Regions from separate parts of the Homo sapiens genome. Here region 1 is linked to region 2. Evidence: fine-mapped expression QTL. Tissue or cell type: atrial appendage. Region 2 holds a variant in brackets; the other region holds the start of a gene. All regions are shown on one strand. Distances are between the middles of the regions.

The links. PIP is the estimated chance that this variant, and not a neighbour inherited with it, causes the effect.
Region 1: DCTN4 starts here. The variant in region 2 is fine-mapped to the expression of DCTN4 in atrial appendage (GTEx, PIP 0.99).

Annotation. Positions count from the first base shown.
Region 1 is chr5:150,754,142-150,762,246 of GRCh38, reverse strand. DCTN4 (dynactin subunit 4) reads left to right here and starts at 3,230. Exons shown (of 13, transcript NM_016221.4): 1 at 3,230-3,388; 2 at 5,760-5,830. The coding sequence starts at 3,254. RefSeq lists enhancers at 3,155-3,454, 3,885-3,954.
Region 2 is chr5:150,382,906-150,391,010 of GRCh38, reverse strand. It overlaps TCOF1 (treacle ribosome biogenesis factor 1), which reads right to left. Exons shown (of 27, transcript NM_001371623.1): 18 at 2,923-3,109; 19 at 988-1,124. Among named protein-coding and RNA genes, the nearest start is that of CD74, 26 kb to the left of the region's middle. The variant G/A (reference allele first, on the strand shown) is at 3,952.

The DNA.
Region 1 (8,105 bases), 370 kb before region 2:
GAGGAGGGCAGATCATGAGGTCAGGAGATCCAGACCATCTTGGCTAACACGGTGAAAACCCATCTCTACTAAAAATACAAAAAAATTAGCCGGCCGTGGTGGCGGGCACCTGTAGTCCCAGCTACTTGGGAGGCTGAGGCAGGAGAATGGCATGAACCCAGGAGGCGGAGCTTGCAGTGAGCTGAGATTGTGCCACTGCACTCCAGCCTGGGCGATAGAGTGAGACTCCGTCTCAAAAAAAAAAAAAAAAAGGAAAGAAAAATTCAAAGTTCAGTTCAATTCAAAAGCAAAAACAATTCAAAAGATTTCCCAGAATAAAGGCAGGCCAGCAGTCTTTTGCCATGTTTACACTTGGGAAATTAGCTTTAGCCCTGCCACCACCACATTTCCTGGGCAGTAAGGGCCCCCACAGGGGCTAGCATGGATATTGATGAAACAGGGACTTCTTTTTTCTTCCTCCTCTATTCACTTACTATGACTTTTAGATTAGCCTGTAAATAGATTCAACACAGGAAACCCTATAATTAATATAGTTTTCAAGTAGGAAAGCAAAAGTGGGGAAGGCAGCCAGGGCAGGTGGCCAGCATTGGTGAGAGCAGTTCCCCAGATTCCTAAGCTGTAGAAAACCCTAAGTCTTTGAGGTCAGAGCCCAGATTCGGTCCCCTTCACAAGACCTCATTTGACCAAAGTCTGACTAACTTCCAGTTTTTTCCATTATTATTGTGGATTTACTCTGAAGGACTCTTTATAAAAATGAAAACCACTTTGGGTTTTTCATACTTGGGATATTTAGGGAGCATTTCTTCCATGTGCTTAGTACTTCATACCTTACAAAATGCTTTCACAGCCTGGATGATTTTTTATTTTCACCAAGGCAGGGATTATTCTTCTCATTCTATGTGTCTTGAAACAAGACTCTGAGGTGTAAATGTCTTTTTCAAGATCACATAGCTAGAAAGTGCCAAAAGTATCCACTCAAATTTGATAATATGCCAGGTGGGCAAAACAGTGGGAAATGGATAGCTCATACACTTATAGTGAGAGTGTAAATTGGCCTAGAATTTCACAAGGGCTTATTGCCAGTATTTATTAAATGTGGATATCCTTTGATCTGCCAGTTCAACTTTAGGGTCTCTGTATTAGCCTGAGTTCCCCCTAGAAAGCAGAGCTCAAAATGAGATTCTGCAGGCAGGAAGCCAGGATTGAGAAGTGAATGAGGGTGAGTCCAGGGCTGGGTAGAGTGAAAAAGCAACACAAGGCTACATTATCAAGCTGGTCACCATTGTGCATAACTAGGACTCGATCCTGCTAGAACCCTGAGCCTTTGAGGATGGAAAGTATCTCATTTATCGCTAGTTCCCTCCCCAGTACCTGGCATGTAGCAGGGACAAGATAATTGGCCACTTAATTATTTAAAATCAGTGCTCTAAAAAGTGTCTGTTTTATGTGGATTCAGCTCAAGTCTCCAGCCTTTCTGTACCTGCAGGCTCTGGGACTTCATTTTAACAGCATAGTCCAGAAAAGGGAATTTAAACTCAGTAGAGACTAGTTTATAAACCAGAAAACCAACGAATTCATTAACCTAAAGAAATAATTGCAAATGAGTTGGCTAGTAATATATTCTCTCCTAGGAGCAGATGTCACCTATGAAACTAAATTAGTGCCAGGCTATTGCTTGGTGAACAAGTAATGACTTTTAGGCTCAATTGGTAAAGCGTGACATAAATTGTGAGATTAGCACTGTATAAGCTGAAAAGGTCTATATAAATGTAAGGTATTATTAACATCACCATATTAGAAAATATGCTGGAGGGAGTATACATAGGGGTTATACCTGCAAGCACTAGAGTCAGAGAGAAAAGGGTTCTACCTCCATCTATGAAACCTTATAGAGGAGTCACTGCACTTCCCTGTGCCTCAGTTTCCTGCTCTGTAAAATAGAAATAATGATAGCCACATGCTTTTTGGAGCTGTTGTAAGAATTAAATTAGACAATGTATGTAAAGTTTTGACACAGTGTGCTGCACTTAATAAGTGCTCAATAAATGTTTGCTAATAGTATTCAGTTCCCTTTCTTCTCAATCACCAACTCTAACGTCAGACAGGTAATAATACAACACTACTACAATTATAAAAATGTAGACCTGGTGGCAGGCAACAGAGGCTCCAGTTTCTGCTAGGCAGTTCTAGGTGGTCATTTTACATACTGGGGAGTCCCAGTTAGAGAAAGGGAGTCAGGCTAGTGGGACCAAGGGATAGCAAGAAGAGCAGATGCACTCTAAGTCTGCCTTTCTTCATGGTGCAGGACACGTAGCCCTCCTGTGCAAATAACTCACAATCTTCCTGCACTCAGCTATCACGAGACACATGCAAGTTAGCTCCCTGTAACCTTGGAGTTCTCGGTACTGCACAGCACTCTGCAGCCCAAGAACCATCGGATAAAATCTCCAGCAAGCCTTTGTTTCCTTGAAGTCAGCTCCTCTCTGGCTGGTCTGCCCATTGCAACCTTTCAACGTATTTTCATACCTTCTCTAATAAATCTGCATTTCTTTACCTAAAACTGTTGATAAATTATTTTCCCACCCATGTAATACCAGTCTCACGTAGTCGCTGCTCACCCAAGAGGCAGACCTGAGCCTTAGTTTACACATTAGAAAAACGTAGACGCCTACCAACATTGTTCATTCATTGATTTCATTCCCTCCTTTTCATACTTATTGAAGGTCCACAATACAGACTTAGACCTAACGCTAACTATGTACTCAAAAACCTGCGTTTCAAATGAGATAATGTATGTGAAAGTTCCCAAAGGCCATTGGCAAGACTCAGAAGACAGTGCTGGTGTGACTCCTGTCTTGCAGTCCCCACGGAGCCCTGTCCCTTTGAGACCTTCCATTTGTCTCCTGGATGCTCGCCTGTTAAGTGGGGCAGAGGAGGCCGTCGTAAATAAGACAAAAGATCAGGCTTCCATTCTGGAAGAAAAGAATAAAAGGAGCTCACTGAGTCCAGACCTAATGGCAGTAAGGGCAGTGGACGCTCACAAAAGCGCTGGGGGACGGGCCCAGAGTTGGGGAGAAAACAGGGATCCCAGCTGCGCACGCGCGCTCTGGTTTTCGACGGGCGCAGAGCCGGACGAGGTGGGAAACCTAACGTCAAAGTCTACGTAGGAAGTCGTAGGGAAGGCAGCGAGGAAGACGCTGGCTCTCGGGTCACGTGATGCGCCGGGAGCGTCATCGCCTCCTCCCTCCCCAAGATGGCGTCCTTGCTGCAGTCGGACCGGGTTCTCTATCTAGTCCAGGGAGAAAAGAAGGTTCGGGCCCCGCTCTCGCAACTCTACTTCTGCCGCTATTGTAGCGAACTGCGGTCGCTGGAATGTGTGTCTCACGAGGTAACAGAGTCGCCCTATAGCGAGTATGTGGGGTGGGGGGGGCGCGGCGTTCATGCTAGTCACTGCCACCGGAAGGCTGGAGCTATTTTCCTTCCTTACTGATTGGTTATGTCTTCCGTCACTCGGGTTTGCCTGCGATTTAATTTGCTTCTAATCTGTCACTTGGAAAGGAGGAGCAGCCTCGGGTGGGACTGAGCGGATCTTCTGGTTCTAGAGCGGCCTCTGATTGGACAAACTTGACTTAGGGACCGTGTCTGTCTGCGATGGGGCTTGGTAATTGGGTGGACTACGGAGAAAGGTCTGGGGGTGCTTAGTTCAGGCCACTTAAGGGGCGAAAAACTGCCTTTCCAGGATTTATTGCGAGGATGGAGGGAGGCGCAGGCGTTCTCATTCATAGTTCTCCCATCCTGAAAGTTCTGTTCCTCTTTTGTCCAGAAACTGGGCCCTCGTCAGACTGCCTTGCCCTGTTCCTGACTCAGGCCAAGGCCTGCAGCCGGGAAGAGGTTGGGGCGGCGTGAGTTATGTGAAAAGCGCTCAGAATACAGTATGTCATGTAAGAAGCTGAAAGTGTATTTATGGAGCTAGAGGACAATGCTGTCCTTCCCTGGCACAAGTGGGCGTCCGAAGTTGGATTTTTCAAAAAGAAGACCCCGGCCAGTAAAAAGTCACCAAATAACAAAACCCCAAAACTTCTGCAGCGCTTGGCACATCTTGTTTATTCAGTAAGCTTTAGGGATTAAAAGGCGAGTAAGACATAAAATGCGCTGTTTAATAAGCCATAGTCTTAGTGAAGAAAAAGCTGATAGTAGTAATAGTTGCTGCTTATTCGATACTTGCTATATGTCATGTGCTTTATGTAATCTTCAAACCAATTTAAGTGGATACTTTTTTTAAAAAATTTTTTTTACAGGTAAAGAAACAGATACAGAGTGTTCGCTGTAAGTCACACAGCCAGTAATTTGGGGGTGGGAAGGAGGACCTGGATTTGAATCTAAACAGCCTAACTCAGAGTGTTTTTTACTGAAGATCCCGGGACTGTTAAAATAAATGCATATGAAAACACATACTATAAGCCATTTTATGTGTTATTAATAACTTATTTTATTGAAGATACTTTTCATAATAGGAATAGTCAAGAAAAGCAATTAAATAATACAAGAAAAATCGTATATATTAAAAATATGGCATCGATTTTTCTTCTCATCTCCATTAGCACTTTCCTTATGTGTATCTCCTTGATGATTCCCTATTCCAGCTCCACCTCCAGAATTTATTGGATCATATTCTCCTGTGGTGAATAGAGTGCTCAGTCTCCATGATCTGTCTCTAAGACTCTCTTCAATTAGGACATCCAGTCTGTGACAGCATCTTTTACAGCCTGATGTGTACCTGTGATATGGAGGCCATTAGAGTTTAGGGAAAGATGAAGCTCTGAGGGCTGGGGCAGGCAGTGAAGTTCTAATGGAGAATCTGGGTCTGGAGCTGCACATGAACGGACAAGCAGAATTTGGAAAGGGGGCAAAAAGGAATGACTTGTATTTTGCCTTTTTTGATGAGTCAGTGCAGAGGTTAGTTAGCAATATTGTATTTTATGTTCCTGGAGATTATTTGAGCAACAACTTTATTAATCTTTTCAAATTGACCTGTTTATAGCAGATGATGAAAAAAGCCAGTTTCTATCATAGTATTTATGTTCCAGTGATTGTCTTTTCATTTGCAGGTGACTAGAGTTCTATAATTGTCAAATAGGACCTACATTAAAGAAAATAATTATTCAGACTTTTAAAAAATAAAATGAACTTAAATTTTAGACTCCAGTTTTTTAAGTACAATAAGACTGTCCCATTAATTTGTTTAAAAATCTCTAATTGGTTGGCCATAGCTGACTATGTAAATAAATATTTATGCTTGCCTTCAGTCAACCTGTATTACTTCAATAATGAGAAATCTTTAAAAAAATGTCCTTCAAAACCTAAAAGTATGGTCAAGTTTTATAGTCATATAAAGCTAGCCTAGACAGGAGGATATTTTATCACAATGTTACAAATTGGATTATTTTATTAATCTCTTTATTAATCATAGAATTCTATGGAGTTCAACTGGAAATTGTAGATTGTTAAATAAACAACTTTTAACACATAAAACCCTGATGATGGAATAGGAAAGATCAGAAAAATAGAAGGATTTTTTAAATCCGGAAGAAGAAGAAAAAAAAAAAACAGGTGACTGAAGAAGAATAAACCCTAAGCAGAAAACAGTCTACTTTCTGCTACAGTATAACATATTTTAAAATTCACTATTTGACAAGACATATACACAAGTTAAACTGAGTTCTCCTCTGGTTTTTTTTTTCTTTCTTGTTTCCTCCTAGGTGGACTCCCATTATTGTCCCAGTTGTTTAGAAAATATGCCATCGGCTGAAGCCAAACTAAAAAAGAATAGGTAAGACCTGGACTGATTTTTTTTTTCTTCCTATTTTCCTTGACTGTTCTCTAAAATAGCTAGTTAAAAAGACACATGGGCCAGGCATGGTGGCTCACGCCTGTAATCCCAGCACTTTGGGAGGCGGAGGCAGGGATCACGAGGTCAAGAGGTTGATACCATCCTGGCTAACATGGCGAAACCCCATCTCTACTAAAAATACAAAAAATTAGCTAGGTGTGGTGGCACGCGCCTGTAGTCCCAGCTACTTGGGAGGCTGAGGCAGATGAATTGCTTGAACCTGGGAGGCAGACATTGCAGTGAGCCAAGATTGTGCCACTGCACTCCAGCCTGGGCAACAGAGCAAGTCTTTGTCTCAAAAAAAAAAAAAAAAAAAAGACACATGAAATTAACTTTTTTAACCAGCTCTTTTTCATTTTTAAGCATCACCATTGCCAAAGATGAAATCCCCTTTGATTTTTGAAATAGATTTTCTACTTTAGAACAGTTTTGTACTTCAGAATTATGGTGAAGATAGTATGGAGAGTTCCCATTTACCTCACATCCAGTCTCCCCTATTGTTAACTTTTTACATTAGTGTGGTATATTTGTTACAATTAATGAACCAATACACTACATTTTATTCAGATTTCCTTAGTTTTTCTGTGGTCTCCTTTTTTTCCAGGATTCTTTTCAGGATATCACATTATATTTATAGTTATGTCTCTAGACTCCTCTTGGGTGTGGTGTGATAGGAGAATCTTAAAATTTCCTTGGTTTTGATGACCTCAAAAGTATTGAGGAGTACTGGTGAGGTATTTTATAGAATGTCATTTCATTAGGATTTGCATGATGTTTTTTTCTCATCAGACTAGGGGAATGTATTTTGCGGAGGAGAACCACAGAGGTAAAGTGCCATCTTTGATTACATCATATCAAGGGTAAATACTTATGACTTGTCACTGTTGGTGTTAACCTTGATTATCTGGCTTGAGCTAGTGTTTGTCAGGTTTCTCCACTGTAAAGTTACTGCTTTTCCTTCTTTTTTTGTACTCTACTTTTTGGAAGGAAAATTACTGTCACAGCCCATAAAGACTAGAGAATTATGCTCCCCTGTCCTTGAGGACTATCTGCATAAATTATTTGGATTTGGAATTCTTTTGCATGGAAGATCTGTCTCTTCTCCTCTTGTTTATTTGTTTTTTAAATCACTTACTTATAGGACAGTGGGATTATGAATATTCATTTTATATTTTGGCTTGTAATCCAATACTACTTTATTTATTTTGCTCAAATTATTTCAGCTTTGGCCATTGGGAGCTCTTTCAGTTGACTCCTAGATCCCTTTGACATACCCCCATCATTAGGAGCAGGAGAGAGTTCTCTGTTCATTACTTTGATCATTTTCTTACCAGTACTACAAGATACTCCAGACTCATCTTGTGTGTATGTTTTGTGTGTATTTTTTTTTTTTTGAGACAGGGTCTCACTTTGGCGCCTAGGTTGAAGTGCAGTGGTGCAATCTTGGCTCACTGCAACCTCAACCTCCCAGGCTCAAGCAGTCCTTCCACCTCAGCCTCCTGAGTAGCTGAGACTAGGCACATGCTACCACACCTGGATAATTTTTGTATTTTTTTGGAGAGATAGGCTTTTGCCATGTTGCCCAGGCTGGTCTTGAACTCCTGGCTCAAGCACTTCACCTGCCTTGGCCCAAAGTGCTGGGATTACAAGCGTGAGCTGCTGTGCCCAGCCTCATCTTGTATATTTTCTGTCTCAGTCTTAGAGTTGTTTCTCCAAGGAGCCTTGGTTCACTTTATTGGAGAATAGTCTTAGAAACCAAGATATGGCTGCTAGGCTTGCTCATTGCTACTGGATGGTGTTTAGTTTTTAGCTTGAAGTGAAAGTCCTTTTGCTGTTAGTCATACCCCCATACCTTTATGGATGTGAACCACTATTATTTGTCTTTCCTGCCCTGAGAAGTAACCCCTGATAACCAGATACTGTTTTGTATACTTTCCACAAATTAATTTTTATCATTTAATCCTCAAAGCTTCCTTGTAAGGTGAGTACTATTATTATCTTCTTTTGATAGTATCCAGATGGCAGACTATAACAGATAATGCAAGTTATATTATAGAACAGAACTTCAAGCAGGTACAGGACTGCAGGTGAAATCTTGATAATCTGTGCTGGTGGGAGAGTTAAAAGCAAGAAGACATAGGGACCTCCTAAAGGAGAAATGTTGGCTGAGCACTAGGAAAAGTAGCATTTAAGGAGAGAACAGAAAGCCCTGAAA
Region 2 (8,105 bases):
GCTTAAGCATCGCTGTCTCAGGAGGCCTTCATATAGCAGGTCACCCCACTATTCTCTAGTTTTTATTGTTTCCTCTCCTACCAGCTGGTGAATACTTTTTATTTATATGTGGGTTTCCTTGTTTAATCGCTGCCCCTCACCACTCCCTGACTGGCCTGGGAATTCCTTGTCCCTGTCTTGGTTCCTGCAGTATCCCTAGGGCCTGGCAGGAACCGATGCTCATGGATGCAGTGACCACAGCCTGACTTCCCATCCGACACCCATGTTCCCAGAAGTTTTTGACCTGGAGCTTGTGATGAGCCCAGGGAGTGGGTGGCACACCAGCCCCACCGCCCCCCAACACCCCCTTAGCCCACCCCTCAGGAAGAGAGGTCAGAGTGTGTCATGGACTTCATCCTCTCAGTGGGATGGGAAACCAGACTGATATGGCCCAAAGAGCAATGAACTGGGTCTCAGAAGACCCGGGTTCCGGCCTTGCTGAATGCTGGTCACATCGCAGCCCTTGGGGTGGGGATGTGTGCTAAGTTTTATGATCTAAACAATGCACCAGCCATTAACCCTAAAATGCCCAGCTTTTAGATTCAGGCAAGGACCAAATAAAAATGCACTGAAGATGGTAAAGGCTTGGAAGAATGCTGAAGTCACTATTACAAACACCAAAAAAGGGCAACTTTTGTTCATGGCATTTCAAAACTGGAAGAAAAAAAATCAAAAGCCCCACTACGCTGGAAAATCTCATGAGGGACTCGAGTGCTGCAGGGCTTGCTTGGCCAGGAGGCTGTGTCCCCAGATTACTCTTCCTCATAACTCAAAGGTGATTTGGGGGGTTGTAGCTAGGAGGCCAGAAAGCCTCTGGCTGTGAGGCCACGACCTCTGGAGTGTGGGCGTGACAGCAATTGCAGGCCATCCCATCAGCACATGTGGGTAAGTATGGAAGTAGGGCCCCACCCCACTGGCCTGCATTACCCTCCCTTGCCCACCAGGTACCTGAGTGGCTGGTCCCTCCTGTTTCTTGCCATCTGATATCCGACTGGACTCCTTGCTGCTGCTGGCCCCAGCCATGCTGGCTTTGGGGGCTATTCTTGGGTGGGCAGTGGGCATGGTCACCACATTGGTTCTGATGCCTGAAATGGAGCGAGATGGGGGCACATCAGGGCACAAAAGCCCCATCGCCTCCTCAGCAGCGGCAATAACCCAATTTACCGGCCTGTGCTGGTGATCTAGAGCTGTGCTCAGGGCTTACAGAGGTAGAAGCTTGTTTACTTCCCTCTCCAAGCCTCCCAGGCAGGAGATGTCATTATGTCATTTGACAAGGCTCAGGGAGCTCAAATGGCTGCTCTGGGGGTGACCCCAGGCTTCCTCATCCCCTCCCCTCCCAACTGGTCGGGCTGCCACTCCTGAGCAATGGGCCAGAGCACCGGCACCAAACGACTCTCCTTGCAGTTAAAATCGTCTCTCCTAAGAGTCCCCGTGGTTATCTGCAGAGGCCTGGTTACATGCATGTTCTTCAAAGCACTGTTTATAACAGCCAACTCCCTCACCCCTCCACCCTGAAACAAAACCCTCTGCTTCCTCCAACATGGTGCTGGCTACACACACTGTAGCATGTCCACCCAAGGGATTTCTCTGTAGCCATTAGGAATTGTGCTGCAAATATGTAAAGATGAAAAAAACCCGATGTCATAAAATATCCAGTGAAGGTTACTGAACATTAGATACAGTATGGTCTTGCTTTAAAAACACACGTATATTTTAGGTTTTTATAAAGTTAGCATTTGTCAAATGTTAACAGTAATTATTTGGGGCAGAATTACAGGTGATATAGTTTCTTATGTGCTAATCTGTATTTTTATTAAAAAAATATACACACACATACACACATATATGTATAAGTATATGTATATGTACATATGTATGTAGGTAGGTAGATAGGTAGAGATAGGGCTCTCACTATGTTGCCCAGGCTGGTCTTGAACTCCTGGGCTCAAGCGATCTTCCTACCTTGGCCTTCTAAAGTGCTGGGATTACAGGTGCGAACCACCATGCCCAGCAGTAATCTCTATTTTGCCTGCTTTCTGTTTTTTTGAGACAGTCTCACTGTCGCCCAGGCTGGAGTGCTGTGGCACATCTCAGATCACTGCAACTTCTGCCTCCTGGGTTCAAGCGATTCTCGTGGCTTACCCTCTCAAGTACCTGGGATTACAGGCGCCCGCCAGGCTAATTTTTTGTATTTTTAGTAGAGACGGGGTTTCGCCATGTTACCCAGGCTGGTCTTGAACTCCTGATCTCAGGTGATCTGCCTGCCTCAGCCTCCCAAAGAGCTAGGATTATAGGCGTGAGCCACTGCACCCGTCTGCATTTTTAAATTGTCCTATCAGGATCAGGTATTATTGCTTGTAAAACTGTTACAATAACTGTAATAGTAACATTAACCCTTTTCCTGTTGTCATTGGTAGAATCACAGATTCTCAGAAGTCAAAGAAACCTCAGATTGGTCCTGTCTCTCTGATAGATGAAATCTATCCCTGTGATGTCTCTGGCTTAGGGATTGCCTAACCTACTTTACATGCCACCAAGGACGGGAAGCTCACTACCACCCTGACCACTTGTTCCACAGGCAGTCAACTGATACAGAATTCTTTCTTAGACTATGTAGGAACCTGGTCCCTGCAGCTTCTAGCCACTGGTCTGGGCTCCATGACTGGGGCTGCCACAAAAAAGCTCTGGCAACTATTCCCCCAGAACTGCAGGTCTGAGCCAGGCCCTAATCAGAATGGCTAATGCAGGGCCCAGAGACCTGACCCCAAGCCCCTCCCGACCAACACCTTGCTATGTGACTCAGCCAGTGTCCTGTCCCTTCTGGGCCTCAATGTGGGGCAGTGCTGGCAGCCCCTCCCACCACTGCATAAGGGCTGCGCTCACCAGGAGTCAAGCACTGTGTAGCGGGGATCACGTCCTCATCCTCGCTCTCGGAGGAGGAGCTCCTGGCTGTGCTCTCCGAGGCTCGGGCCTTCCTCGGGGTGCTTGCAGCCTGGGCTTGTGCGGGTGTAGCAGCTGGGCCAGCTGGACTACGATTAGGGTCGACAAAAATCAGAGGGGGTTTAATCACCTTGAAAAACAAAAACAAAACACCCCCCCAGTGATTAAAGGCTTGGCCAGGGAAAGGAGGTGATGGGGTTAGGGAGTGTTTTACAAGGCAAAGGGTCCACTGAGCTCAGGGGCAGCTGGGCACAGAAGCCATTCCAGCTGCCCAGGGTGCCCCCTCCCACCCCACACATCTGCTAAGACCCAGCACAGCACTTCACAACTCCCAGAGCCCACCTGACCCTCACAGTGAAGCCCTACATTCAGCAGGATCAGCTCCCTTATACAAAGTGGGAAAACCACAAGCCCAGAGGGAAAGGGAGCGACCCAAGGCTGCTGTCCCTACTGGAAGCAAAGCCACGGCCAGAATGTCCAATTCTGCCTTCTTTCCCCGGCTGGCTTCAGAAACAGTTACTTGCTGAATGCAGGGAGTGGTCTAAGCAGTTTTCCAAGGCTGCCTGGTTGGAATATGCAATTCACCTGGGGAGGTATTTACAGTCTAGTTGCCCCAACCCCAGAGGTTCTGATGCAGCCCTCCTGATACATGGCCCAGGATGAAACTCCCCAGCTATACCAATTCAGTTTCTTCAACAAAAAAATGCACAAGAGAAACAAGGGTTGGGTGAGTGGGTGAGAACCAACAGATTAAGACTTAGAGGATTAATAACTCAATGCCGTACGTGGCCTTTAACTGAACTCCATGAGACAATCAGGGAAATAGGGACACTGACTGGGTAGATCAACTTATTAGGTGTGACACTGTATCGTAGTTGTGCTTAAAAAGGTCCTTATAACTGAGAGCTGCATACTGAAATCCTGGTGGATGAGCTGACATGTCTGAGACTGGCTGCAAAGTAATCCAGGGGC[G/A]TTGGGGAACTGAGTGGAGGGTTTGCGTGAAACGAGCCTGCTCAGGAGTTCCTAACTGTTGAGGCTGGGGATGGTACGTGGGGGTTCTTTACATTATCTATCTTTGGGTATGCTTTAAATTTTCCAAGGAAACAATAAAAGAAAAAGCAAACAAGCAACAGCAGCTCCCTGGTATTCTGCAGGCCAGTCTGGTTTTGAACTGCACCATCCCTGAACATGTTCACCGCACACGAGGGCATCTCCAGGCCCATTTCCTTCCTGAACCTCCAGCTAACGAGAACACACATGGTTGTGAGCCAGGGAGCTGGTCAGGTCTACTTTCCATTCCCCAAATGTCAGATCTGGTTTGAGCTCTGCTCCCTCTCTGGCCAGTGAAGAGCTGGAGGGCAGGAAGAGGGAGCTGCCTGAGGCTAAGAGAGGAGTGGAATCAGGTCCAGACTGGTCTCTGTTTCACCATCCTGTTTACCCCCTGAGCCTGACTTAGCACACCTGGCTCCTCAGGGTGCTAAGGTGCTGTGGAGAGGCATAAAGTAAAAAGTAAAACAGAAAGGTGCCTGCCTGAGGGTGGAAGCTTCTCTGGGCTTAGGCCTTTCCTACCCCTGCCAAATAGCCTCCCCCGCGGCTGCTCCGATCTGCCACTTCCAGAGCCTTCCTTCCCACGATATAAAAAAGAGAAGGATGGAAAGTGGGAGAAGGCTTACAGTTGAGGGAGGGGGGATCTATATATATGTGAAGACAGGAACAGATTGTCGGGGACGAAGAGAAGCAACGAACCCACTGAGGCAAACAATAGCGTCTTGGGATGTTAAAAGCAGCTCAGCAGCAAAAGCCTCCTGTTAGTTCCACCTGCCCACGCCACCCCACTGGGCCTCTGGGCCGTAGGAGGGAGGTGGTGCAGGGGGCTTGGCTGTGGGGGGTTGGGGCGGGGCATTAGCCTGTAGAGTTCATAAAGGTGGGCAGTGAAGCTTGCCCAGGGTATAGGAGAAGACCTGCTTCTCATTACGCCTCTCTCATGACTTCACTGTGTGGTCAAGCCCCTCAACTTTCTGATCCTCAGTTTCCCGTTTAATGAAACGGCTAGTAGTTATCCCAGCCTGGGCTCATTCACTGGAGGGGTTCCAATGCACTGTGGAAACTGGAAAGCACAGTATACACAGGAATGTAGTTCTGGGGTCAGTTAGAAAAAAAACTGATGGGAGTGAAGCAGCAAAACCAGCACTGGCCTGAACATTTGGTTGTACCTCCCTATAGGTGCTGGGCAGTAAGGACCCAGAGGGAACCCTGGGATACCCCTCCTACCTGTAGGTCTGATGCCTGCAGAACCAAACCTAGGGGCTTTCTGGACAGTGCTCACCCCATCCTGTCAAAGCTGAGCTCATTCTAACTGTGCCTTCATTCCAGCAAGTCACAGAGTGGGGAGAGGGGGCTGATGGCCTAGGCTGCGGACCCTGGCAAGGGACATGACCACAAAGGCAACAAACACTCCAAGAACCTCTCTCAGAATTGCCTGAGGCTGCTTAACAGATCTAGGCCAGCCCCACTCCAGGGGACTGAGAAATTCTACTCTCTGGGGATGTGGCCTGGAGCCTCAAGGTCCACCCCACCAACCCAGGAAGTCTCATCCCAGAGATTGAGATGAATGAGGCTCAGAGAAGGCAAGTGGCCTCACCCAGGGCAACCAGCAAACTGGTGCCAGAGCCAGGATTAGAAGTTAGTTCTCCAGGCACCAGACTGGAGCTCCTTCTAGAACCAATTATGCTAGGCCTCAATGTAACACCAGAATTTAGTTTCTTACAGGTTTCCTTTTTCTTTGATTCAACCTAAAACTTTGAGAGCAGGGCCTACGTCTTTGACAAACTAATAGAAGAAGTTGGCCTTAAAAAATATTACCGACAAGTGAAACTGCATATATTTGTGGTATATAACATGATGTTTTGATACACATATACATTGTGGAATAGCTAAATTAAGTTATTTAACATATGTATCACCTACTTGTTTTTAAATCTGGAAGCTGTCCTGACCCCAGCACAGACTCTGGCCTGAGGTCTACTCTGCACAACAGGGCGGAGGCACAGTGAGGGGTCTAGGAATGGAGCCAAGGTATCTATCCCTGCCTCCCAGCCTGGGACTCTGCCCACCACCCTGGCCTCAATCCCTTTCCCCACTGATGGGCTAATAAAATCAGACTGAAACTTGTCAATAGAGAGGTGCTCAATAAATGTACAATAATGAAAATAATCATAATTAGTGAGCTGGGGATTAGGAACTAAAAATCTCTCAATCAGGAAGAGGCTGCAGCTTCCCCGGGCTATGCCCGTCTTCCCCGAATCCTCCTGGGGGAATGTACAAACCGCTGACTTCTTTTCTGCTTTTTAAATAGACTCCAGAATCTTCAGGACTAACATACCAATTAAATGGTTCAGTTTAAGCAGGATGTTCATTTTAATTGTGTTAGTCCACCCCCACAGAGAAAGGGGGAGCGGTCCCCTCCCTCCCAGTTGTTTAGATCCCTCAGAGAGGCAGGTGGCCTCGTAAAGGCTCCACACAGAGCCAGAGGGCAATGCCCAAGCCCAGGAGAGGAGAGTGTCGGGGCAGCACCAGGCAACGGGTCAGAATGTGAATGGCCTGTGCTCAAACACCAGGTCTGTCCACTTGTCATCAGCCATGTGATGCTGGGACAGGTCCCTCAACTTCTCTGAGCCTCACTCCCAGTTCCTTAAAATGCAAACAACAAAGGGAGCCACCCTCATAGGGCTGTTGTGGAGATTAAACAGAAAAATGAGAATACAGGGAGTTACCGATGTTGGTGGTGGTTGTTCTTTACTTTTGTAATCTGTGCCATTGGAAAGTGAGAGGCAGTGAGCACCCTATTGCTGGAGGTGTGCAAACAGCATCTGACCTTACTGATGAATTGATAACAATGTGGTATGTGATATTCAAGGGGAGGTGGTTCATGAGACCGCTCTGGTCTGGAGGTTGCAGAACTCCAGGATCTGTGGTTAGGCCCTGGGACAGGGGAGCTGGTGCTCTGAGGTGCCTGGCAGAAGCTTCTGGGAGCTTGGGGCTAGAGGAGGACAAAGGGTAATGCTGTCTGATGGAAGGGCCAGGGTTCACACAGAAGCTTGGACCACACCAGCATGGCTGACTTGGGCCTCTGGAGTACAGGAAGATAAGGTGGGCCTGGTCCCACCCTTGGAGGTGTAGCCTGAGCAGGACTGTGGCTTAAGCTCTGGGTGCAGTGGAGCACATGAAGGTATGCCACAGGTGCTTGAGAGAGGGTCCTGGGCAGAGCTCATGGGATTCAAGAAGACTCCTGGTCCTAAACAGAAAACAGAGAGATACAGGGAGCCAGGGGACCAGCGTTTGGACCTTTCCTCAGCCTCTTATGAATCATGAGAATTTGGGGAAACTGCTTCAACTCTAAGGCTTGATTCCCAATCTGTCAAATGGGGCAACACTCCCTGCCCTTCTCACAGTTAACAGGCACCCTTTCTTAGGCAGGGGACTGTGGCAAGTACCTTGTGTGCTGGCACCAGTGCACAGAGGCAGGAGAGAGGTGCCAGTACTGTCCCCATTTTATGGCTGAAACATTGAGCCTCACACAGGGGAAAAGGCATCTGCCCAGGACCATGGGGCTGTTGGGTGGAAGAGCTGGGCTTCGCCCCAACACCACCTGGCTCTGAAGCCTGTATGTTTAACTGTGTACTGCTGCCTGCCTCACAGGGCTCAGATGAATGTCACAATAGAGGAAAGAGCTCTGGAAGCTGTGAGGTGCTGTTTAAATATGGCGAGATTTTCCCTATGGGCAAGATCTGCCCTCTCCTGCAAGGCCTGCCAGCCCAGCTCTGATCCTGCAGCATCTGCAGAGAGAAGGCATGGCGCACCTGGGTCAGTGGCAGCTCTTCCTCACTGCTCTCCGAGGACCCCTCCGTGTTCCTCTCTGGGGGTGCTGGGGCCAGGGTCTTGCTTCTGGCAGGTTTGGAGTTACTGTCCTTCTGAGGGGACAAGACCTGGATAAGCACGTGGTCGGGGAGTGGGGCATTTGCTGAGGGGGAAACAGCCAGTAGGCAATGACCCTCAGGCACTCTGGTTTCCAGGGGAGGCAGCGTGGCCCCTTCCTGCACATGCACAGGGATACCTGCTGGCCTGAC